Linked DNA regions of Homo sapiens. The protein of the gene in region 6 purifies or fractionates together with the protein of the main gene of each other region. This does not show direct contact. Each region holds a gene or a part of one and is shown on either strand. Other genes may lie near its edges.

Region 1 (3,500 bases), on a different chromosome or scaffold from region 6:
TTCCCTTTCTCTGGTCAGTTGCACAGGTGCTTCCGGCTACAAGTAGAGAGTTTGAAGAAACTGGGTAAACAGGCCCAGGGCTGCAAGATGGTGATTTTGTGGCTGGCAGCCCTGCAACCCTGTAGCCCTGAACACATGGCTGAGCCAGTCACTTTCTGGGTTCGGGTCAAGATGGATGCGGCCAGGGCTGGAGACAAGGAGCTACAGCTAAAGTGAGTTGAGGGCCAGACGCAGTGGCTCATGCTTGTAATCCCAGCACTTTGGGAAGCCGAGGCGGGTGGATCACTTGAGGTCAGGAGTTTGAGACCATGGCCAACATGGTGAAACCCCGTCTCTACTACAAATACAAAAATTAGCTGGGCATTGGCCGTGCACAGTGGCTCACACATGTAATCCCAGCACACATGTAATCCCAGCACTTTGGGAGGCCGAGGCGGGCAGATCATGAGGTCAGGAGATCGAGACCATCCTGGCTAATACGGTGAAACCCCATCTCTACTAAAAATACAAAAATTAGCTGGGCGTGGTGGCGGGTGCCTGTAGTCCCAGCTACTCGGGAGGCTGAGGCAGGAGAATGGCGTGAACCCGGGAGGCGGAGGTTGCAGTGAGCCGAGATCGTGCCACTGCACTCCAGCCTGGGTGACAGAGGGAGACTCCATCTCAAAAAAAAAGTGAGTTGGGGAGGGGGTCAACCATGTTTCTCCCATGGATAGGGTGGCTTTTGGTACTCATGGTCATGTCCTTTCATCTTTATGTCTGAAAAATACTAATTCCTTCATTCATTAGTTATTCATTGAGTGCCCACTGTATGCTAGCCACTGTGCTACTTGGGGGGTATAGTGGTGACAGTGGTCTTGCTTTCATGGAGCTTATATTCTACTTGGGGAGATATTTTTAAAAAGTACATTTTGCATTTTGTGTCTGTTCCTTTTTTTTTTTTTTTTTTTAATAGAGACAAGGTCTCACTATGTTGCCTAGGCTGGTCTTGAACTCCTGAGCTCAAGTGATCCTTCCACCTTGGCCTCCCAAAGTGCTAGGATTACAGGCATGAGCCAGTGCGCCCAGCCTTCACGTATGCTCTATGAAGACAATTAAACTGATTTGCTAAAAGAGGGAGCAACTTGAGGTGGGTTATTTAGGAAAACCCTTTTTGAAGAAGTGATAGATGAGACCTGAGGATGTGAAGGAATCTACTTTGTAAAGATCTCAGGGAGCCTGGGCAACAAAGCGAGACCTTGACTCTACTTAAAAAATATTAGCCGAATGTGGTGGCATGAACCTATAGTCTATTTACACTTGGTTAGGAGGCTGAAGTGGGAGGATCACATGAGCCTGGAAGATCAAGGCTGTAGTGAACCGTGATCACGCTATTGCACTCCAGCCTGGGCAACAGAGTGAGACTGTCTAAAAAAAAACAAACAAAAAACTCAGGGAAGAGAATTCCTTGCAGAGAGAGTAGTAAATACAAAGGTTGCAAAGTGGGAACAAACTTGGGACCATGCTTGAGAAAGCCGGCATGCTGGGGGTAGTAGAATAGCGGTATAGGATGGGGAACCATATGGAATGAAGGTGGTCAAAGTGGGAAGCGGCCAGATCACACAGGGCCTTATAGGCCATGGTCAGGGCTTTGGAAATGATTCCTAGTGGGAGCCCACTGCCGTTTGTTAAACAGAGGAGCAATGCAATCTGATTTAAATTTTTAAAGCCATGACTGGAAACCTACTGAGCAAGCCAAGGCTGGGGCTCCTCAGCATGGGAGCAGGTAGCAGAGGCTTTATGCCTCCTGGGTTCCACCCTGGTGCTGAGCATGCCCTCTCTCAGGACTCTGCGAGACAGCCTCAGTGGCTGGGACCCGGAGACCCTGGCCCTCCTGCTGAGGGAGGAGCTGCAGGCCTACAAGGCGGTGCGGGCCGACACTGGACAGGAACGCTTCAACATCATCTGTGACCTCCTGGAGCTGAGCCCCGAGGAGACACCAGCCGGGGCCTGGGCACGAGCCACCCACCTGGTAGAACTGGCTCAGGTGCTCTGCTACCACGACTTTACGCAGCAGACCAACTGGTAAGGAGTAGTAGCTGCAGAGGCCACTCTTGCTCCTTGCCCTAGGTCCTCTCACCCTCTTGAGAACCAGTTTCCCTCTCCACAGCCCTGAGCTCTCCCTTCATCTTGTGGCCATGGGAGCACATGCAAAGGGCGAGGCCAGCTGTTCTGCAGCTAGCCCTTCCCAGGGCGCTATGGCAGATACTCATAGTAGGCCCAGCTTAAGCACATCTTCTCCCTGCAGCTCTGCTCTGGATGCTATCCGGGAAGCCCTGCAGCTTCTGGACTCTGTGAGGCCTGAGGCCCAGGCCAGAGATCAGCTTCTGGACGATAAAGCACAGGCCTTGCTGTGGCTTTACATCTGTACTCTGGAAGCCAAAATGCAGGAAGTGAGTGTGGCTGCTGTGGGGCTCACCAGAACTGGGTGTAGGAATTACTGTCCCTGGGCCCCCAACAAGTTGGTATCAGCCCTTTTTTTTGTTCGTTATTTTTAGAGATGGGGTCTCTCTGTTGCCCAGGCTGGTCTTGAACTCCTGGGCTCCAACAATCCTCCCACCTCAGCCTGCCGAGTAGCCAGGACGATAGGCCCACACCACTGTGCCCTGTTTTATACCCCGATCTTCCCATCCAGGGTATCGAGCGGGATCGGAGAGCCCAGGCCCCTGGTAACTTGGAGGAATTTGAAGTCAATGACCTGAACTATGAAGATAAACTCCAGGAAGATCGTTTCCTATACAGTAACATTGCCTTCAACCTGGCTGCAGATGCTGGTGAGGGGTAAATGGAGTGTGGCATGGGCATCTCCATGGCTTCCTAAGAGTGGAACAGGGACCCCTGGTGAGGGAAACCCTGACCTTGTAGGGTAGGAGGTTGTGGAAGCAGTGGGAGGTTGGCGTAAAGGGCAGAGGATGTTATGGAGGAAGGGAAGTTCTCTCCAGATGGCCCATGCTGAGACAGCAGTCATTTTCTTCTGGCTTAACAGCTCAGTCCAAATGCCTGGACCAAGCCCTGGCCCTGTGGAAGGAGCTGCTTACAAAGGGGCAGGCCCCAGCTGTACGGTGTCTCCAGCAGACAGCAGCCTCACTGCAGATCCTAGCAGCCCTCTACCAGCTGGTGGCAAAGGTAATGGGGTGGGGCATTGAGGGGGACCCATATAAACAAGGACTAGACCAGAAACAGCTCCCTCGCCTTCTTTGGCCTGTGATCCTCCTGAGAAGCCATGAAAGCCAGTGATGGAAGCGCAGGGCTGTATCACCAGTCTTATTTTAAATCCAAGCTCCCTCATTCATTAGTGTATGGCCTTGGGCAAGTTGCTTAACCTAAGCCCAAGTTTCCTTATCTCTAAAATAGGGGCCATGCTACTGCCTCGTGGCGTTATTATTCAGTGCAGCAGTGCATGGAAGAGGTATTGTGTAAATGGTATGCTCAAATGTTAGCTTTAGTCTGGGCAACACGGCGAA
Region 2 (3,500 bases), on a different chromosome or scaffold from region 6:
GCTGAATGAACATTTTCACCATTGTGTGTGTTTCAGTGGCTTTGTGATGGTTTTATTGTTTATTTTAGAGTTTTGATCGAAACCCAAAGTGACACATGCTTAAATTTTATTTTCAAGCAAACTCTTGGTTCATGTCACTATTATTTGCATATCACCTTCACAACTGTGATTCTTCTTTGGTGTTTTGAATTCTTGAATTGGATATAAACCCAACTAGCAAAGTCCAGTTGGAATTTTCTTTTAAACACTTGGAAGATTATATTTCAGAAAGGTCCTTTGGTAATGTCACTAAGGACTGAGTAGATAAAATAATATTAAACTTACTCACAGCTATGTATTGTTTCCATCCTTCAGAAGCATATGGTATTAAGATGGATTTGTTTGTATTGACCATTTTGTGGGAATCAGAAGGGCATAAGTTTTCTTTTCTTTTCATTTTTTCTTTTCTTTTCTTCACCCTTCTACTTTCCCACCTGTCTCCCAGGTCACTGAGCGCCTCTTATTGCATCATATAGCTACATACATGTTGAAGCATGAACTGTTTTGTGTATGTTTCCAAGTCTTGGGAATGTGACAGGATGGCTGTTCCAAACCTGATTCCCTCTGCAGAAGGGGACATGAGGGCCTTTTTTCCTAGGTGGCCTTAAAGAGTGATAAATATTTCAGTATCAAATATGCAGACATTTTTTTAAAAACACAAAATTAAAATATTCATTTGTAGTTTTACCTGGATAAAGGAGCCATTCTCTGTCCAGAAGCCTGCAGCTCCATTGCCATTTTAAATGTCTTTGTTTCCTGACTTATCAGGTGAGACAGTAAAAGATTTGAATTTGAATAATTTTTTAAAGTCATTAGAAATGAAAAACCTGAAGCTGCCATTTCTCACCTTGCCCTTCACTGTATTCTGTTTCCTGATTCTTCTTGTGATTCCTTTTCTCTAGAGGAACATAGATCAACTTCTCTATGGAAATTCTGTAAGGGATTTATTCTGAAGAACTCAGGGGTTCACCACACTCTCCCTCCTTCCTTCAGTATTAAATAAGCAGTCATTTGGGTTCCACACTCAGCTTTTTAAGCGTATGCTGAATTATTCCAGGCTTCTTAGTATTAAGTGAATACTTGGTTTCATGTAATTGCGGTCAATTTGTTGAGCGTTAATGCACTTTAGTTGCATGAGGTACAATTGAATTAGCTCCCTGGGGTACTGTTGCAACGAAATATGGCTTTGAATAGCTGAGTGGCAGTCCCCTGCCCCTTGATCAACCTTCACTTAAAACCCCAACTCCTGGATTTAGTGTCTTCTTGACATCAAATGGGTATCAACTTATTTTATGGTGAAGGGTATTTTCAAGATCTTTTTGAAGAAACTAGAAATAAGTCTGGGACTCTTCAGCTATGAGAAATCTAGACTGCCCTGTATTTTGGTCAGGTAGCAGGTAAGAAAATACCTTGTCTGTCAACTTTCATTTAGAACATTTCTGTTTAATTCTGATATCAATGTATCTCACTGCTCTTGATGTATAGTTCCTTCTTAACATGTTCTTTGGAAAAGTTGAGGCTATCTTGCAGCTATGGTCTAGATTGTCAGTGCTATGATGAATGTACATACAAATCACAGTGGGCTTCCCTGTTAGATGTAAATGCCTTCTTGCCACTACATGGGGAGGTGGATGTTAAAATCATGCTTTTCTTTGGCTTTTTCATGTGACAGCACAAGGAAACTGAGCTATTCTGGTCTATTCCTAATAAGAAAGAACAGTGCATTCTAATGAGGAAGGGAAGATTGTTAATTTCATGTATGTGTGTTTCTGAATTACCTGCTCCTTCATGCATTGGTGTGCTTCTTATGGATGTGAAGTGCTGTTGATGTTGCTAATTATCATTTCAAAAGCATGGCTTTAATAAGGCCAGACACAGCTTCTGCATCCTAGCAGGCTCTCTGTGGTACTAACATTTTGGAGAATGTGAAATTTGATGAATGTTTACAACTAAAGGTCATCTTTCCTCACACTCACATTGGTCAGCCCATCATTCAGGCTTAGCTCTCTTGTGCTCTCACATTGAGTTAATGAGGGCTCAAGGACTTAGGAACAGCTGCAATGGAAACAGCTTAGATTTTTAAGGAGAATAAACTGAAACATTGTAGATAAACCTGAGGCTGTTTTTATGTATGTAAAGTCTATAAAACAAAGAAAAATTAAATGCTGAGGAGTTTTTACATATGTAGAGAGACCTTCAGATAAAAACTGAATAACTATACTTCTCCACTTTTGTTGAAAGAGACAGTCTTTTAGGTCATAGGTTATGGTTTCTGTTATTATCCAAGTGCCCAAATTTTTATAGCTCTTGGAATAGGCTAGTTAGATTCTACGCCATTGGTGTCCCCTGCCTGTTGCTCAGGGCAGTGAATGGTGTGGCACTTTCAGGGCTTCCTGCTGCATGAGGACAAGTTTTCTAAATTTATTTTAAGGACATATTAGAGATATTGGGGCTGGGCATGGTGCTCAACCCTATAAAGCCAACACTTTGGGAGGCCAAGGCAGGTGGATCACCTGAGATCAGGAGTTTGAGATCAGCCTGGCCAACATGGCGAAACCCTGTCTCTACTAAAAATAATAAAAAAAATTAGCCAGGTGTGGTGGTGTGTGGTAGCATGCACCTGTAGTCCCAGCTACTGGGACGGCTGAGGCACGAGAATCACTGGAACACAGGAGGTGGAGGTTGCAGTGATCCAAGATCACGCCATTGCACTCCAGCCTGGGTGACGAAGTGAGACTATCTCAAAAAAAGATATTGTGAAAAGATTAAAAACATTAAAGATTATCTTTAAGGATGTATTAAAGATAACGTGAAAATGTCTTTTAAAATGAAAGCAACCTAAATGAAGATTTGGGCCATGACATATTAATATAATGGAATGTTGTTACAATCATTAAACCTCTGTTGTAGAAGCACATGATATAAAAGTGTTCACACTAAAAAAATGGTTGAAATGGTGAATTTTATGATATGTATATTTTACCACAATAAAAAAGTGTTCACAAATATTTTAAGTGAAAAAATCTGTTGTAAAACAGAATGTAGTAGCTTCTCATATGTGCATGCAAAAGTGTATCCTAAAATGGTGTAACGGCTATGTTCTTTGCTTATCCGTTGAAACTGCAAGTGATTTTTATTCTTCTCTTTTCTTTCTGTATTTTCTAATTCTTCTTCCAAGTATGTTTATTGCATATAAACCATAGGGGAAGTGAATAAGCTGAGTAAAAGGAGAGAACTCTCTTCCTCCAGTTATTTGTATGACTTTTTAATTGAGAATCAGTTAGTTCTGATTATTAAGTAGAGAAATAACTCACACAGAAGGAAATCTTAGATAATTTGTTAAAATATGGAACTCAGTTCTACCAATACAATATCTAATCAAATTACAATGTTGAAATACTAAACAAATATTAAAAAATTAAATATTAAATTTGACAGAAAAAATATTTCTGTATTTAAGA
Region 3 (3,500 bases), on a different chromosome or scaffold from region 6:
AGGCTGGGCCCGCGGGCAGCTGTCGTAACAGGGCCACACCACGCGGCGCCTGCTCTGGGGAGCGCCTCCATCAGACCGTTCTTCCTCTGGGGGTTCAGGGGGCCCCTGGGCCAGTTCCCAGTCATAGGGAGGGCCCTCGGCCAGCGTCTCCTCAGTGTAGAAGTCCCACACCTTCAGGTTGGACACGTTGCTGTAGGGCCGCAGGACCTGAGGGTGGGCCTGTGGTTGAGGACCTGGGTCGGGCAGGAGCCGCCTACCCGACCCAGGCCCCAGCTTACCTCTGCGTCCTCGGGCGCATACATGTAATTGTGGAACACAGGCGTCCTCTTGCTCAGCCGGTCCACATACTCCCACACAGACCTGCACGGCACCTGGCCCCTGCGTTCCCCCTTCTCCTCATACAGCAGCCCTGCACAGAAGCAGCACTGAGCCTGGGCCCCTCCTGACCCGTGGCTGCCCCAGCCCCGACTCCCCACATACCCAGCTCAATGCGCTCATAGTCAGAGTCGAGCAGGAAGGTCCGGAAACGGCGGGACACATGGTGGTAGCCGAGGAACTTGAGGTAGAACTGGCTGAACTCAAACTCCATGGGGAACTGCAGGTGGACCTGCACGCCATGTGGGTCAGGGGCCAGGGCTCAGCGGTCAGGGTGCACAGTCCCGGCCCACCCACACAGCGGCCTGCCCACCTGGTGTACGCAGTCCAGGAACTGCAGGAAGACGGGTGTGAAGCCGCTGCTCTGCCCGGCCAGGGTGTGAGCTCCACGGTGGCTGAAGCGATGGCCGAAGGACAGCCACTCCTTCTCCACCAGCAGGCGAAAGCCCTCCAGCGTGCGGTAGAAGGGGTCTGAGAGCAGCTGCACCAAGGATACCACCTGCCAGCACCGCCAGGAGGTCAGCGAGGAGCCCGGGAGCCTGGCCCACCCCAGCCCCACGCGCCACACACCTGGGTGGTGATGTCCCAGCCATCCTCCAGGCCCACCAGCACGGAGGAGCCTGAATCCAGGAGCTCCACCACCAGCACAGACACCTGCAGCAGCTTGTGGATCTGCAGGGACAGGCGGCCTCAGCACCTCGGGGACCCACCGCCCTCCCGCCTGGCCACTCACCAGGCCAGAGACCCGCATGTCCACAGGCAGCGGGGAGGCAGGCCCTGTCCACAGCCCCCCAAGCCCTGTATGCGGGCAGAGCACTGGACAAACACAGCTCGCTCTGGGTGTGCCGACCACCGCCTCCAGCCTGCTGGTCACAGCCCACCCCCTTCCAAGCCCTCTAGGACTGAGGGACGTCCCTGTCCCTCAAGATGCCGGTGGCCCTACCTTCAAGCCCTCCAGTGTTTACCAAGCCAGCATCCTGTCAGTACCCACCCCCGAGAGAATGCAGCAGGGGCCCAGAACCATAAACTGCATCCCCCGTGTGGTCATCAGCCCACGTGGGCCCAGCAGGCTGCTCCGACATACCCATGCCCAAGCCCTGGCCACTCTCACTGTCAGCTGGCCCCAGCCAGGCCCAGCCTCCCAGCTGCCTTCTAGGCACCAGAGCCTGGGTGGGAAGTGGCTGTCACCTCCTCCTTCCAGCGCTCCACACTGTCAGACAAGCAAACCTAGACCCGTCCACTTGGCTCTACCCAAGGGGAGGGCCCAGCACCAAGGCGGGCAGAGGGACGGGGCAGTGCAGAGACCTGGATCAGCCACTCTGAGTCCTCCAGTGAGCGCAGGAAGGAGGCTGGGCTGGGCTCAGCAGCGGGGCAGCCTGGGACACATGCTTTCAGCAGCTTCTTGAAGCTAGCCTTCACCTGCCGTGCCTCGAATACCTCAATGGGCACCAGCTCCCACTGCTGCAGGGGGTCTGACCGCACACCCTGAAAAGAATCCGGACAAGTCCCGTGAGACACATGAGGCCCCAAGCCCCCTGCCGAGCCCCCACCCTCACCCCCCACCCCCCGCACCCCAGTCACCTTGAGCTGGGCTTTGTCCCCAAGGATATAGAGGGCTGCTCGCTGCGGACGCAGGAAGCCCGGGTCGGGAGGGCCCCCGTTGGCCTGGGGTGGGGCCAGCGCGTCTCTGCCAGCTAGCCGGGAGCCCACATCGGTGCCAAGGCCACTGCTGCGTCCACTGGTCCGGACACTGCCCCACTTACCTGTGAAGGAGATGCCAGGTAAGCACCCAAAGGGGGCCAGGGCACCACTTACCTGGGGCTGGCTGGGCCCGGCCTCCAGGGAGGGGGCTGAGCTCCCAGGGCAGGGGTGGTTGGCAGGACCCCAGCAGGGCCGTGCGAGAGGAGGGCTGGAACACACAGATTCTGAGACGTGGGGTGGCAGCCAGTGTTAGTTTCTAGGGCAGGACTCACGGGTCAGGGAGGTAAGGACTGGGGCTCGGGAGACGGGTCGTTAGTGTCAGGTGTGGAGGGAGACATTAGTGCCCGCAATAACTCAGTGCACACTAGAGGCCGCCAGCACCAAGTAAGGGGAGGCGGGCCTGCGCAGGCTCGGTACGGTACCTCGGGGTGCGGTCCGTCTGGAGGCCGAGGCCGCCATGGGGTTGGACAGCGTGGTGACCCTGGCTCTGGGGCTGGGAACTGAGGGCACAGCAGAGAGAAGGCTCAGGCCTAGCCCCAGGCCTGGGCGTGCCCAGCTTGGGGGTGCCTACAGGTCAGAGGGTTCCACCAAGCCCCCAGGGAGCCTGGAGACAGCAGGGGTCAGCCCCAAGTCCCTGATCGCAGGAAAGTGGGAAGAGCCATCCTGGTGTGGGCCTCTCTGCCAGGGCAGGGCAGGCCGCAGAGCACTCCGTGGCAGCAGAAGGGCTATGCGGTGGGGATCCCGGGCTCTCCTCTAACACTTCCTTTCTTCCCACTCAAACCAGCTTAGAGCAAGTCTGTCTCTGAGTCCCTCCCTCCACATCCTGGCCCTTTGTCCTCCACTCAGGGGGCCAGGGCTTGTGATGGGCACAGCTCAGAACGCTCCACACATGAGCATGTAGACGCCTCTGTCCAGGGCACAGCAACAGGAGGTGCCCAAGAGGTGTGGCCTGGAGAAGAGGCGACCTGGAGGCTTCCCGAAGAGGGGAGAGGGTGGGCTCAGAGCCTGAGCCCAGTCCAAAAGGACGGAGAGCAGCTCAGTCCAGGACACAGGCAGATCTGAGTCCCAGGCTGAGGTTTACGGTCCAGACGACGTGGCCTGAAGGCACAGGGAGGACTGGCAGCCCAAAGGGCTGGGAGATGCCTGGGGTCCACAGAGGGTCTCTGGGCGCCTGGCCCTGCCCAGGCTCACCTGCTTCTGCAAGGCCCGAGGGTGGGACTGAGAGAGGCAATGTCCCCTCGTCCACCAAGTGGTCACTACAGGCCAAGCACAATGCCAGCCCAACACGCCCTGTGTCCTCTGACGGCTGCCACACTGCAGGCGCCCAGCTCACAGTGAGGACGCAGCACCAGCCTGCTTTGGACGCCAACCAGGGCCCAGTGTATCCTTGTAAAAAGGTCAGAGCTGGCCAGGCGCAGTGGCTC
Region 4 (3,500 bases), about 40 Mb from region 6:
CCAAGTCACACACAGTAATTCCAGTCTAGCTTTATTCCACTGAAGCCGATCCAATATATAAAAATTGGATTTATAGACAGATAAAATAGAAGGGGTTTCTTTACAAAAGCATTTACTATTAAAAGTCTTTGACTAAGCTTTCCTAGTACATATAAAATACACAGAAGTCATATTTTCATAGAACACATTTAATAACATGCTAGCTGTATAAAAGAAGTGACATCATCTTACGGAATATATATATATATGTGTTTTTTTTTTTTTTTTGAGACAGGGTCTCTCTCTGTCTCCTGGGTTGGAGAGCAGTGGTGCAGTCTCGGCTCACTGCAACCTGCATCTCCCAGGCTCAAGCAATCCTCTCACCTCAGCCTCCCGAGTAGCTGGGGCTACTGTGTACCACCACCCCCTGGTAATTTTTGTATTTTTTGTAGAGACGGGGTCTTGCCATGTTGCCCAGCCTTGTCTCAAACTCCTGGGCTCAAGCAGTCCTTCCACCTCAGCCTTCCAAAGTGTTGGGATTACAGGCATGAGCCACCACACCCTGCCTGGACTGTATTCTCTTAAGTGATCCATGAAGCAAAAACTATCTGCTACAGCCAGGTATGGCTGCACAAGCCTGTAGTCTCAGCTACTCAAGAGGTGGAGCAGAAGGATCTTTGGAGCTCAGGAGTTTGAGGCCATCCTGGGCTGCATAAGGAGACTCTGTCCCAAGAAAGCAATAACTATTTGCTGAACTCCATAGGACAACTAAATGTTACTATTTTCTGAAACAAAGTTGTTATTTTTAGCCACCTAACAATACATTTTAACCTAGAACCCAGTGGATTTGTTTATTCTACAGTATCAAAAAAAATTCAAGTATCAAGTTATATCTGATTGGTATCATTAAACTTACCTGTGAAGAAGATAACTATAAAGAAGCAATGTTGTATTTCATTAACATGAAACATTAGAGTATTTTCTGTTTTGGGACTTGTAGAAGTTTATGGACACTAAAATTATTTGGGCTTTTTGCCTTAGACTCAATTATGTTTGGAACATCTGTCACAGCACCTTGTCAACTGCATTCTAGAACATTTCTCCTCCTGATGGAAAATACAACATGACCTATGAGGCAGTCTTGCAAAAGAAAAAAGAAATAGCAGAATCTAATCTAGCCTTTCAAGATCCTGCCACAATTTATAGGAAATAAGAGTAAGAGGTCAAAGGAACATATTTATTGACACCTCAGCAAAATCTAGCTTCTACAGAAAAACGACCCAGTTTCATCCCAAATAAATTACAAGAAAAAAGAGTGAGGATTACAAAAGACTTGAGACATATCAAGCAATTACAATGTGGACTTTATTTGAATCTTGATTTCACAAACTGTGAAATATATGTATTTTACATATGACATCTTGAGAAATATGAATACTGTGACTTGATATTTGATCTAAGGAATTACATTGATAATTATTGAAGTTGGGTCATGAGTACTTAGGGATTAATTCTCTTTAAGTGTTTTTCTCATAAAAAGTTTTAAAGTCTTGTAGAACTAAAAAAATACCAAAGATGTTCTAATTTTATTTCATTTTTTTCTAAGAAGAATAATATTTTTCTTTTCTTTTTTCCTTTTTTTTTTTTTTTTTTTTTTTATGATGGGGTCTCTGTCATCCAGGCTGGAGTGCAATGGTGCAGTCTCGGCTCACTGCAACCTCCATCTCTCAGGCTCAAGCAACCCTCCCACCTCAGCCTCCCAATTAGCTGGGACCACAGGCGTGTACCACCACGCCTGGCTGATTTTTTGTATTTTTAGTAGAGATGGGGTTTCACTATGTTGGCTAGGCTGGTCTTGAACTCCTGACCTCAAGTGATGCTCCTGCCTCAGCCTCACAAAGTGTGGGGATTACAGGTGTGAGCCACCGCACCTGGCCAGAAAAAGAGAAAATAATTTTTATTATAGATTATCAGTAGTTATGTATATTAATGAAGAATTTGGCTTCATTTACCTAATTAGATTAATCATAAATCATTTATGAATAGTAATAGACTTGAATTGTTACTTTATATTACACAGTTGGCCCTCTGTACCTGCAGGTTCTGCATCCTGGGATTCAACTGTGGATCAAAAATATTTGGGGGAAAAAAAGCAATACAACAATAAAAAATAATACAAATTAGGAAAAATATACTACAAGAACTATTTACATGGCATTTACATTATAAGTAACCTAGAGATGACTTAAAGTATATGAGAAGATGTGCATAGGTTATATGCAAATATGCCATATGAGGGACTGGAAAACCCAGGGATTTTGGTGTCCTGGGGGCTCCTGGAACTAATCACCTGTGGATACTGAGGGACAACTGTAATTAAATTGATTTTTGGATGGATGCAACTGATGTTAAATTTGGCGGGGGGGAAATGTTAGGATTCACAATAACGTGAGTACTGTGGGTTGGAGTAGAGAATATGCTTTTCAGACTCATTTTCCTTTGGAAATTAATAGTAAGGTCTCAAGTGCCCCCTACAGCCTTGCTACTCAAAGTGGGTTCCACAAAGTGTTGACAGTATGGTACTAAATAGAAAGTGGCTGAATGAGAAATGTAGATTGCAGAGGGCAACTGGTGTGTTTATATGCCTGACATTATTTGGGTTTTCCCCCCTCAGGCAGAAGCTGAGGAAGATTGTCATTCTGATACTGTCAGAGCAGATGATGATGAAGAAAATGAAAGTCCTGCTGAAACAGATCTGCAGGCATGTTTCTTCAATTGTGTCTTTGATTTTTATTCCATTGTTCCCATACATATGCAGAAATTGATCATAATCATGGGTATTTGTAGGTTATTACTGTTTGCATGGAATTTAACTGTTTCCATACTGGTTTATAGAATACTTAAAACTATGTTATGGCTTTCTTTGTGAAAAGAAATATCAATAATGGTTGCTTGTAGTTTAACATGGGTTTAAAGTATTCAAACTAAGGCTTACGCATGACTCAAAACCCATAATCTTAAAAAGATTGATGGGTTTGACCACCTAAAAGTTTAAAACCTGTGTATAAGAAAAGGCATCATAAATAAAGTTAAGAGAAATAGCCAGCTGGAAAAACTGTTTATTATATATGGGCAGAGGATTCATCTCATTACATAGAGCACTCATATATTTGGAAGAACAGAGGATAAAAAGATATGAGTGGACTGTTAATGGCAAAATAATACAAATGGCCATTAAATATTTGAAGAGATAATTAGCCTCATTAATAATTTAATCAGATTGGTGAATAATGTGCATCGCTGTCCAAGCTGTGAGAACACTCATGCAGTGTACATGAAAATGTAAATTGGTACAGCTTTCTGGAGGGCAGACTGGTGATATGGATCAAAATGAAAAACATGCATTCCCTTGATACAGCAATTCTACTTCCAGGAAATTAATTTTAAGGAAATAGTGGGGAAAGTAAATATGCAACTATAAAGATGTTTAGTATAGCATTGTTTATCTGGAAAAACATCAT
Region 5 (3,500 bases), on a different chromosome or scaffold from region 6:
GCCTCTAGGCCCAGCTACTCTGGAGTCTGGGGTGGGAGGATCGCTTGAGCCCAGGAGGCAGAGGCTGCAGTGCACTGTGATTGCACTCTGCACTCCAGCCTGGGTGACAGAGCAAGACCCTGTCTCAAAAACAAAACAAAACAAAACAAAAAAAAAGAAAATGTTAAGGGAAGAACTTAAAAGTGATCCTAAAACATAAACATAACCTATAACACTGTTACTAGTAAAGATCTATTTTCCTGATGTGTTAAATGCTCCAAATATTCTACAAACTAAAATCATCTAGTTTGGCCAGCTGTGGTGGCTCACACCTGTAATCTCAGCACTTTAAGAGGCCAAGGCAGGAGGATTGCATGAGCCAGGAGTTCAAGATCAGCCCTGGCAACATAGCAAGACCCCATCTCTACAATCAATCAGTCAATCAATCAATCAATCAACCAACCATCTAGTTTATACTATTTAAAGTATTATGAAGTTTATTTATTAGTATGGCTTTATGTGGAAACATTTATGCTTATCACTATTGACTAGTCTTTACAAGAACCAGTGAAATGCATAGGATGTATATATTAGATATTTTCAAATACCTGAAGGAGAAATCTGTATTTCTAAAATATACAAGAAAGGACATTTTTCCTAATATGCAGGGAAAAAAGAAGATGAACTGCTATAATTTTATTTGACCTGAACAGAGACCAGAATAATCTATGTATTGTGTTTCATAACCTTATTTGCATGCCCAAGTAGAAATTCCCAGAGTATCTTTGAACATGATATGTAATATATTTTACTTTCCCTAATTTTATTTTTCTTAAGAGTAAACTCTTAAATGTACCTTTATTTGAAATGACTGCCTTCCCAAATTCTCTAACCTATTTGCCCTGCTTCATGCTTTCCCATAGCAATTTCACCTTCTAATACATGGCATAATTTACATATTCATGTTTATTGACTCTTCTCCCTGCTAAAGTGTAAGCTCTACGAAGGCAGCAAGTTTGCTTGTTTTTTTAACTATTGTATCCCTAGCACTTACAGCAGAACCTCGCACATAGTAGGCATACAATAAATTTGTTGAATGAATGGATAAGGCAAGTATTTAGTTAAAACCAGACTGTTTAAACCAGTATTTGTTGAGTTTTTATGTTAAATTGAATATGTATGTAGACCTCTTCACTTACCGTTCTTTGATTCCATTGCTCCTGGACATAGGCAGGATATTCTAGAATATTTTAAACTTACCATCTGGCAAAAGTTATTTAATGCTAATTGTGTGTGTGTGTGTGTGCGCGTGTGTGTGTGCGCGTGTGTGTGTAAACATACATTCATATAATACATATTTATAACAGGTACTTATCTTCACAGTCTCTGTTGCTCATAAATGGATGAAATAAAAATTATAATGAATAAATGGTTTAAAAAATGTCAGTGAAGTGAAGCTTTTTATCTTTTTAAATTGGTAAAAATCTCTCTTCTTCCCACAGATCTTAAACCTTACTCAGGCATTGAGAGACGGGAAGAGTCCTTTCCAGCTAGTACAGATACCTTGTGTGATTGTGGAACGCAGTCAAGGTGGAAGTCAGGGTCGGATTGTCCACCTGAGCAATTCCTTTACCCAGACTGTCAATTGCAGGAAGCCATTTTTTTCCTCCTGGTAGTAAATGTCAGAGTAAGAGAAACAAACTGTTTAGAATTATCATGTTTTTAAAACATCATAGTAATATAAATCTGCTGTTAGGAGCTCCAGTTGCTAAAACCTCAATTTAAGTCTTTAAAAGGTTGTATTTTGAATGTAACCAAAAGTTTACAGTTTTTTGTCCAAATATTAAATTTCTATTTCAGGGAAGAAGTGCTATATCTCCTATATTGTATTTTTGTAGAAAATTTGTATTTTATGTTGTTGTTAGTTTAAAAGGTAATTTTACACATGCTGGAATGACTGTAATTACTCTAGAATTCCAAGTAGAATACAATAACTTTTAATATTGAGAAGAATGTTCATGCTAATTCTTCTTACATTACAAAAGGCCTTTGAGGATGCCTACGTCTGAAATTGCTCTTACGAACTTTAATAAAATAGTTAGCTAATAGAAAAACAGGTAAGAATAAAGCAATGTTGCCTTAATTTCAAAAGCTGCTATTTTAGAATTTGAATAAGTACTCCTAAAGTGACCATTATTAGGGACCAGAAAATTATATCTTGGCTAAGTAATAGAGGACCATTTTGGTTTTTGTACTTGAGAATATTTTTGGTGAATTACTTTGTTGTAGTGAGGAAAAAACCTAAGAAATTTCCCCTTTTTTTAAAAAATGGAAATATTCAATTGAGACTTGAGGGGAATAATAGAAAATTAAGGTAGATCCCCAATATTTTGGAATACCAAAATTGCCTTAAAAATTCCCTTCTGTTTCTTACATGGGATCAAATACTTGAGATTAGTACTTCAGAGTACTGGCCTTGTTCAATTTAGTACTTCAATTAGTATTAAACTTCACTAAAAAGTAAACCATACTCCAAATTGTATATTGGATTGCATTTTGGGGTCCTAGGTCATACGTTCTTCAAAATTATTATGATTGTACTATTGTACTTGAAATTACAGATGTTATTATAATTACAGTCAAATGTAGACTATCAGGCCAAATTAAAGGGGAGCATGGCAGATAACCATAAAGTCATTTATATTTGATTTTGAAATGTATTTTTGTACTTTATTTTGAATATCATCCATATGTCTGACATTATTGGAATTTGTAACATTGTTAATGCACTAAGTGATTTAAATTCAATTGATGAAGATGTGATTTTACAGAAGCAGAAGTTTCATTTTCTTGAGGCTTAAAACCAATGTCACCACTTGGGCTTAACTGGGTAATTTGTGGTCTAGGCCTTTTGTTTTCTAAGCTTACTATCTTGTGTTTGTTTATTTGCTTTTAATGAAGTATTTTGTGTAGAAGGTTAAATTAGGATGCAAAACAGATCTGCCATTCCTTTTTCCCTTATATCTTCCTTTTGGTCTTCATGGACGAGATGAATGAGGATTCTGCTGCCCTGAGGGAGTTCATTGGAAACCTGCGTTCTCCTACCTCTTCCAACCCTCCATTAGCTCAATTTTGAGATAATGGAAAATTGACTGGAAATTCAAAACTCAAACTACTATCTTTAGATATAAACACTAGTAATTAAAATGTGCCTTTTGAAGATGTTTTCTAAGAGAAAGGAAATACGTTGCAGTGATGTGGGTACTGCTTTCATAAAACAGTTTTTTCAGTATTTTGAGAATTGCCATATTAATTTTTATAATGGAAAACTTAATAAATTGCTACTGTTTTATATCATAAAATTAAAATACCATGGTAATATTTGCAAAAGGTCTGGCCATACCAGAAAAGTACAGTTGAGATAGTTAAGATATAACCACAAGTCAGAGTACATTGGTTGTATTTTGTAAACTTTCATGAACTGAATTCTTATTTAAATAGTATGGTTTTTTTTCAATAAG
Region 6 (3,500 bases):
GAATGGGAAGCCCCTTGCCCAGACTCCCAGGGGTACCATTTGGATCAAGTGTCAGCCCCACCAAAGCTCTGATCTGTCCTGAGATAGGAGCAGAGACTCAGCCACAACTTGGAGACCCTGAGCTTGGAGGATATAAGGGGAGCAGCTGCCTGAAGGGCTTTAGGGTCTCTGGGCTGGAAACTCTTCCCTATAGCACAGATTTCTCAGGAGGGCCATGAATATTTTGGCTCGGTTACAGAGAACACATTCAGCAGGCTTCGGAGGGAGCTGATTTTCCATTTCCCCATGAGGGATCTCAGGAGGGCAGTAAAGCTTCTTCTGAAATTATTTAACTTAAAAGCTTCTGATGAAGATCAGGCACACTGCCTTGCACATAGCACTCTAACCCGTCAGAAGTTTCCCACGGATCTCATTTTGCTCCTAATTACAGCACGGCAACATAGGTTGGAAGGTATCTCTCAGCTCCACCATTTTAAAGACAGATAGCTTCGCTTTATTTGCTGCTGAGAGGATATTGTCTTAAAATTTTAAGTTGGTTCAAGCCCCAAAGCCTTCAAAAGACCCAGCTTTAGCTCTTTGTTCTCACACAAAGGGCTGCCTGGTCTTTGTGGAGTGAGTTGTGAAGGCCTCCCCAGAAGACTCAGGCCAGTCCTCGTGTGCTTTCTGCCACTCACCCGTGGTCACACTGCATCACATTGACAGATGCGGCAACCCTCCAAGACAGCCATTTCTGGATGCAGGGACAGAGCCCTCAGGGGGGCGAGCTGAGCATGGAGCCGTGGCGTGATGGTTCACAGTCCTGGATGGATGCAGCAGAGTGACCCTCACCCATCATACCCGCATGTGCACAGAAAGCCCCTCCCGTTCCTCTACCACCATTGAGAGCACCAGGGGACTTTGCCAGACCTCTCCCACCACTTGGGAAATGTTTGGGGCTTGGCAAAACACAAAACATACTTTCTCAGGCACTTCTTGTTTTCATGGTTTTCATTTTTCACTGCCTGTTAATCTGGAGTGAAATAGAGTCCATATGTTCCAAGTCCCTTTGCCTAATTCTCTGCAGCATGATTTTTATCTCTGAAATTGTTTGAAGTCCCAAAGTTTTTGATCTTTTTGCCTCAGAAAGTGGGCACCACATTTTGCCACAAGAGGATGTAAACCTGAGACCTAAAGAACGTGTGTTGGCCTGGTGCTCCCAGAGGTGTGTGGACTCAGCATGGGACAAGTGGCTCCCTTGTCTTTTCAGGGAAGTTGTTCACCTAGGAGTAAGAAAGTGCAGATGGCCTCCTTAGGCTGTGCACAGTGACCTAGGGCAGTATTCTTTTCTCATGGCAAAAGGGGGAAAGCCTTTGTAGGTTTCTCCATTAGGAAATTAGCCATGGCTGTAAAGGGCTTATAAGAAAACAGGGCCTCTGCCTCTGCCTGAACCCCTCATTTTCTGTCTTCCCGGTAGAATCTACTTACCCTCAAGTCAAAGAAATGTCATAGCCACGTGCTTAGAGAAGAGTGCAAGACTGCCTCTACTTATTTCCTACATTAAATGGGAGAGAGTGCTTTTCTCTAAAGAGCCATTTTGGTGCTTTCTCCTATGCTAAGACAGATGATTGTCATGAGAAGATCAAATACCTGTGGTATTTGCTGGAGAGCCGAGTCCAAAGCCCAGGCTGACAGACAGGCAGTTTGCAGAACAGGTACCTGTGTGCTTTCTTCGGGAGAAATCCCAGCATACAGTGAATGGCATCTGACACACCCAGGATTGTGGGGTATGTCAACCACACACTCAGACAATGCAAGTTCCCTTTACGTTGCACGTGGTTTTAGGGATGAGAGGAATGCTCTGTGCCACACTAATCCACCTACACACATACATACATACACACACACACACATAAACACATATACACACACACACAGTGTCTGACTAGAAGTCTATACTTAGAATTGTGCTCCTTTAGCAAGAACCTTTTGATAGCGAAGATTTGGGTGGGGAAAAGCTGGAAAAAGAAAAAACCTGAGGATCTTGAGGATCTCAGAGTGGGCTTTTCAGAAGCCCACCGAGAGAGGTAGGGTAAGGGAAGACTGTCCAGAATGCAGAGAAAACAAACTTTGCTTAGCAATTCGTGAAGGGTCTGCTGGCTCTGCGTTTTGGGTTCCTTTTGGAACTGGAAGGATTATCTTATTTTTAACAATATGTCCCAAAGCCTTTAAGAATTTATTGTGAATGTATGATGATGCCTGGGCCTCAGAACCGGAGGGGATCCGTGCATGGGCTTCAGGTTGTGGCAGAGTTTTGTGCATCTGTCTGAGTTGCATGTTTTGGAGAGAGAGTCCACAGCTTTCAGTAAGAATCATAAAGAGGTCTTGAGCAAATGGAGCAAGAAGACCTGGCAACAGAGCCCGGGCTTCTGAAGCTTTCAAGATTCAGGGTCAGCAGAACCTTCTACCAGCTCTCTGGGGCTCAGGAACTGGGATGGGCCCATGAGAGCTGGGACCTGCCAGCTCCCCTAGACTTTGGAGGACCCTTTTTCCATTATTGTGAGTGCTGTCCTTCAAAGGTCTTCCTGTCTCTTTGTGGATTTTTTTAATTAGCTTTTTTTTTCTGACCATAAAATTACAAATTTAGAAAATATGGAAAAATGTGAAGAAAATAAAATCAATCATAATCCTACTAATCCAACCACTCCTACTAATCAGAGTAAACCTCCTAGGGTTTTTCTTTTTCTTTTGTCATTTCAGAGAGGGTTGAGATCATATATGTCTATGAATAGAGCCCTTTTCATTTAACATTACATCATAATCATCTTACTTGCCATTGAAAAGTCTCCATAAGCATCATTTTCTATGGTTGCACAATATTCTATTATATGGCTGCATGACAGTTGACTTAACCCTTTTTCTGTTGGGTATTTGCGTTGCTCATAGTTGTTTTGTTTTTTGTTTTGAGACAGGGTCTCACTGTCACCTAGGCTGGAGTGCAGTGACACAGTCATAGCTCACTGCAGCTTTAAACTCCTGGGCTTAAGTGATGCTCCCACCTCAGCCTCCTAAGTAGCTGGGACTACAGGCATGCATCACCACGCCTGGCTTTTTTTAAGAAATGGGATCTTGCTATGTTGTCCAGACTGGTCTCAAACTCCTGGCCTCAAGTGATCTCCCCAAAACTCCAGAATTATGGGCGTGAAGCCACTGCATCCAACCTCTGTTCCCAGTTTTTTGCTATAATAAATAATGCAGTCAAAACTATCTTTGGGCAAGAAGCCATGCTTGCATATTGGATTAGTTCTTTATGAGAAATTCCTAGAAGTCTCGTTTGACTTTTGAAGATATCGTGTGTTAAGATGTTGCCGAGACCCATCTGTAAAGCATGAATGTTGCAAAAGACTGTGGGCACAAAGGTGGGGCAGGCAACAAGGTTTGCTGGGTTCCTGCTGCACACTGGATGCACCACAGGGTGCTGTGGGTATTAATGGAGACTTAAGCATTAAACAACCCAGCCCTTA
Region 7 (3,500 bases), on a different chromosome or scaffold from region 6:
ACTAAAGGGTATAATATGAAAAGTGTTTGAGAGCACAGACTATCTCCTAAAATCAAACTATCAAAACCTGCAAGCCAGCAAGGCATGAGTAGGCATGACTCAGATACAAATTAGAAGCATGAAATCTCTTTCAGCCATGCATTTAATCATGCTATCCAATATTGTGGAGGTAGTGGCCCCTGGAAGTTTACCTTGGGCCAGAGATAGGTATAGAAGCCCCTTTTATGAAGTCATAGACTTGCTTTAATTTATGCTCCCAGAATGACTTGCATTAAACTGTGGCAAAATATCTTTGAGTTCTCATATTAGCCAGAGGGTTAATATGTAGAAGACAATCATTCATCCTTACAGATTCTCAGAATCTTGGAAGAGGTAGGGTTCTTTAAGTTTAGCCACTATTTTAGGTAACTGTAGCTCCTCCTTGGTTCTTCAAATGATCCTGAAGGCTGGTATACAAACCAGTTATGCCCTAAAATTAATTGGTAGGTAGGCAATGTATAACCTGTCATTGGCTAGTTTTTATTCAAATTTTGGATATGAAAGTCTTTGGCATAAGGTGCTAGCACTCAGAGTCAGTAGGTTTTAGTGCTATTCCTTAACTTCAGTGGAATTGCCTTAGTATAGCAGAATTGCTTGAGTGTCTTATCTGTTATCACCATATACATGAGTACCCTCAAATTATCTCATTTCCCTTTCTTTTGTAGACAATACACATTCCAACTATGGAGAATGGTCCTAAGCTGGCAAGCCGCATCTTGAGCAAATTAACTGATATCCAGGTAAAGCTTTTCTTTTCTTTTCTTTTCTTTCCTTTTCTTTTCTTTTTTTTATGTCACCTTATTTCTGTCAGAGCTTACAACTAAATTATATTTCAATGAAGAGGATTAAATAATACAATTTGAGATCAATAAGTTAAATTTAAGGAAGATATTCCCAACACAATGTGTGGGCATGAGCAAAGCAGAAATGGGAAAGAAGATGTATGTTTTAAAAAAAGAAAGAAAATATTGTTCAGGACTCCACATTACTTAACATTAAAAAATAGATGTAATTTTTGGTAACATTTAAAAATCTCATTAAGAAGGATAACATAACTTTTGTTAAAAAAAGGAAGAAAAAATTTGAAAGTAGAAGCAACTTCAGGAAGAAAATTACAGTGCATGTGATTCCAACACTGAGATATAATCACTGTTAATTTTTTATGTCTTTTTATTTTTGAGCTGGAGTTTCACTCTTGTTGCCCAGGCTGGAGTACGATGGCACGATCTTGGCTCACTGCAACCTCTGCCTCCCGGGTTCAAGCAATTTTCCTACCTCAGCCTCCCGAGTAGCTGGGATTATAGGTGTGCGCCACCATGCCCAGCTAATTTTTGTGTTTTTAGTAGAGATGGGATTTCACCATGTTGGCCAGGCTGGTCTTGAACTCCTGACCTAAGGTAATCCACCTGCCTTGGCCTCCTAAATTGTTGGGATTACAGGCATGAACCACTGTGCCCTGCCATTTTTTGATGTCTTAACCTTCAATATTTTGTAAGCATTTATATACTTTATTTATTTATTTATTTATTTATTTATTTATTTACTTATTTATTTTTGAGACTAAGTCTCGCTGTGTCACCCAGGCTGGAGAACAGTGGCATGATCTCAGCTCACTACAACCTCCACCTCCTGGGTTCAAGCGATTCTTCTGCCTCAGCCTCCCGAGTAGCTGGGATTACAGGTCTCATGCCACCGTTCCCGGCTAATTTTTGTATTTTTAGTAGAGATGAGGTTTTGCCCTGTTGGCCAGGCTGGTCTTGAACTCTTGACCTCAGGTGATCCACCCGCCTTGGCTTCCCAAAGTGCTGGGATTACAGCCGTGAGCCACCATGCCCAGCCAGTATACTTTTAGATAGTTATTTTTTCCTAACAAAATGGGATCATATTGTACATAATTTTGTTACATGTTTTTTCACTGAATAAATGCTTTGCTTTTTTATATCAATAAGTAGTTTTCTCCAACACCATTTATAAAGTTTAATTGAATTCCATTATATTGATGTACCATAATTTTTTTAAAAAATTATATTATTGAACATTTATGTTGTTGGCAATTTTTTTTTCACTAGTATGGACAGTACATCCTCGATTACTTCCTAAGGATAAATCTGGGATCAAAGAGTATACACGTCTATTTTTTCATACTGCTAACTTTGTTTTGCCTATTTTTTTTCTGAGCAATAATCTACAGTAATGCCTCATCAGGCAGTTAAGCAGGCATGCTAAATACCAGATAACACTGGGCTACTCAGAAAAGAGATTATCCTGTAATTTGCAAGCATTTCACAAGTTAGAAGACTTTGTTGAAGCCAGTTACTATCCTTGTCAATTAGTAAAAATATCCAAGAGGGCCTGAGACTTACATTGAAAAGTAAAATAAAGTTTGATCATTTGAGTGATGTCGGATGGCATTAAGTCATGAAACTAAGTGAAACTTAAAGGTGGCTGAGAATGCAACAGGCCTCCAGAGAGCAATGGAGGTCCTTGGGTAGTGATAAAAATGGCATTTCTGGCTGGGTGCAGTGGCTCACACCTATAATCCCAACACTATGGGAGGCCAAGACAGGAGGATCGCTTGAGGCCAGGTGTTCAAGACTAGCCTAGGCAACATAGTGAGAACCTTCCTCTAAAAAAAGGGAAATAAAATAAAAATAAAAGTTTAAAAGAGAGTTTAAAAGGCAGTTTTAAAAGAGACTTACTCAGCAAGTTTTCTGCCAAATTTACAGTATTAAAAAGAAAGAAAGTGTGTTTTTGTTTCTGTTTGTTTTTTTGAGACAGAGTCTTACTCTGTTGCTCAGGCTGGGGTGCAGTGGTGCAATCTCAGCTCACTGCAACCCCTGCCTCCTGGGTTCAAGTGATTCTTGTGCCTCAGCCTCCCACACAGCAGGGATTATGGGCATGCACCATCATGCCTGGCTAATTTTTGTATTTTTAGTAGAGTCGAGGTTTCGCCATGTTGGCCAGGCTGGTCTCAAACTCCTAGCCTCAAGTGATTTGCCCACCTTAGCCTCCCAAAGTGCTGAGATTACAGGCATGAGCCACCGCACCCTGGCCTTGATTGTGGTTTTTTAATCAATGAGCTGCCATACTTCTGCTCTCCAGCAAAGGTTTTCTATGAGAATTTTCTGTAAGCTAAGTAAAGGAATATCTTAATATTGGAAGAAATAAAATTTAGTCAGAGTTGTTTTCTACCTTTGTACACAGCAACACTTACAAGTAATTTGAAGAGTAGCTAATAAAAATTTCTGCATGGATGGCTTAGGCATTTTAATTTTTTTAAGGTTGCCTGAGTAAATCTGAAAATAATAAATTATTACAGTTTTGCTCAAATAAAGAACACAAATAGAACAAAAAATACATAACTGGCTAGATTACATGAAAGCCTTTTTCCAAAACAGAGGTTTAGAGGCCAGGGCAAATAGGCAGGAAAAATAAATAAAGGGCATCCAAATTGGAAAAGA

What was found.
Region 1: the proteins of GFOD1 (region 6) and ESPL1 purify together in Homo sapiens (affinity purification with mass spectrometry; 3 studies listed by BioGRID and IntAct, with this or other methods). This does not show direct contact.
Region 2: the proteins of GFOD1 (region 6) and RALGAPA2 purify together in Homo sapiens (affinity purification with mass spectrometry; 4 studies listed by BioGRID and IntAct, with this or other methods). This does not show direct contact.
Region 3: the proteins of GFOD1 (region 6) and SBF1 purify together in Homo sapiens (affinity purification with mass spectrometry; 3 studies listed by BioGRID and IntAct, with this or other methods). This does not show direct contact.
Region 4: the proteins of GFOD1 (region 6) and FBXO9 purify together in Homo sapiens (affinity purification with mass spectrometry; 3 studies listed by BioGRID and IntAct, with this or other methods). This does not show direct contact.
Region 5: the proteins of GFOD1 (region 6) and PI4K2B purify together in Homo sapiens (affinity purification with mass spectrometry; 3 studies listed by BioGRID and IntAct, with this or other methods). This does not show direct contact.
Region 7: the proteins of GFOD1 (region 6) and BCAT1 purify together in Homo sapiens (affinity purification with mass spectrometry; 3 studies listed by BioGRID and IntAct, with this or other methods). This does not show direct contact.

What each region holds. Positions count from the first base shown.
Region 1 is NC_000012.12:53,274,799-53,278,298, forward strand, and holds part of ESPL1 (separin), read left to right. Parts: intron 1-18; coding exon 19-212; intron 213-1,821; coding exon 1,822-2,061; intron 2,062-2,284; coding exon 2,285-2,429; intron 2,430-2,671; coding exon 2,672-2,810; intron 2,811-3,022; coding exon 3,023-3,162; intron 3,163-3,500. UniProt on the Homo sapiens protein: Caspase-like protease, which plays a central role in the chromosome segregation by cleaving the SCC1/RAD21 subunit of the cohesin complex at the onset of anaphase. During most of the cell cycle, it is inactivated by different mechanisms.
Region 2 is NC_000020.11:20,506,645-20,510,144, reverse strand, and holds part of RALGAPA2 (ral GTPase-activating protein subunit alpha-2), read left to right. Parts: intron 1-3,500.
Region 3 is NC_000022.11:50,454,536-50,458,035, forward strand, and holds part of SBF1 (myotubularin-related protein 5), read right to left. Parts: intron 2,577-3,500; coding exon 2,499-2,576; intron 2,139-2,498; coding exon 1,957-2,138; intron 1,861-1,956; coding exon 1,681-1,860; intron 1,048-1,680; coding exon 946-1,047; intron 875-945; coding exon 689-874; intron 608-688; coding exon 481-607; intron 410-480; coding exon 279-409; intron 208-278; coding exon 1-207. UniProt on the Homo sapiens protein: Acts as an adapter for the phosphatase MTMR2 to regulate MTMR2 catalytic activity and subcellular location. Promotes the exchange of GDP to GTP, converting inactive GDP-bound Rab proteins into their active GTP-bound form.
Region 4 is NC_000006.12:53,068,404-53,071,903, forward strand, and holds part of FBXO9 (F-box only protein 9), read left to right. Parts: intron 1-2,569; exon of another isoform or gene 2,570-2,620; coding exon of another isoform or gene 2,621-2,653; coding exon 2,654-2,740; intron 2,741-3,500.
Region 5 is NC_000004.12:25,275,533-25,279,032, forward strand, and holds part of PI4K2B (phosphatidylinositol 4-kinase type 2-beta), read left to right. Parts: intron 1-1,481; coding exon 1,482-1,655; 3' UTR 1,656-3,500. UniProt on the Homo sapiens protein: Together with PI4K2A and the type III PI4Ks (PIK4CA and PIK4CB) it contributes to the overall PI4-kinase activity of the cell. This contribution may be especially significant in plasma membrane, endosomal and Golgi compartments.
Region 6 is NC_000006.12:13,369,101-13,372,600, reverse strand, and holds part of GFOD1 (glucose-fructose oxidoreductase domain-containing protein 1 isoform 1 precursor), read left to right. Parts: intron 1-3,500.
Region 7 is NC_000012.12:24,827,102-24,830,601, reverse strand, and holds part of BCAT1 (branched-chain-amino-acid aminotransferase, cytosolic), read left to right. Parts: intron 1-704; coding exon 705-779; intron 780-3,500.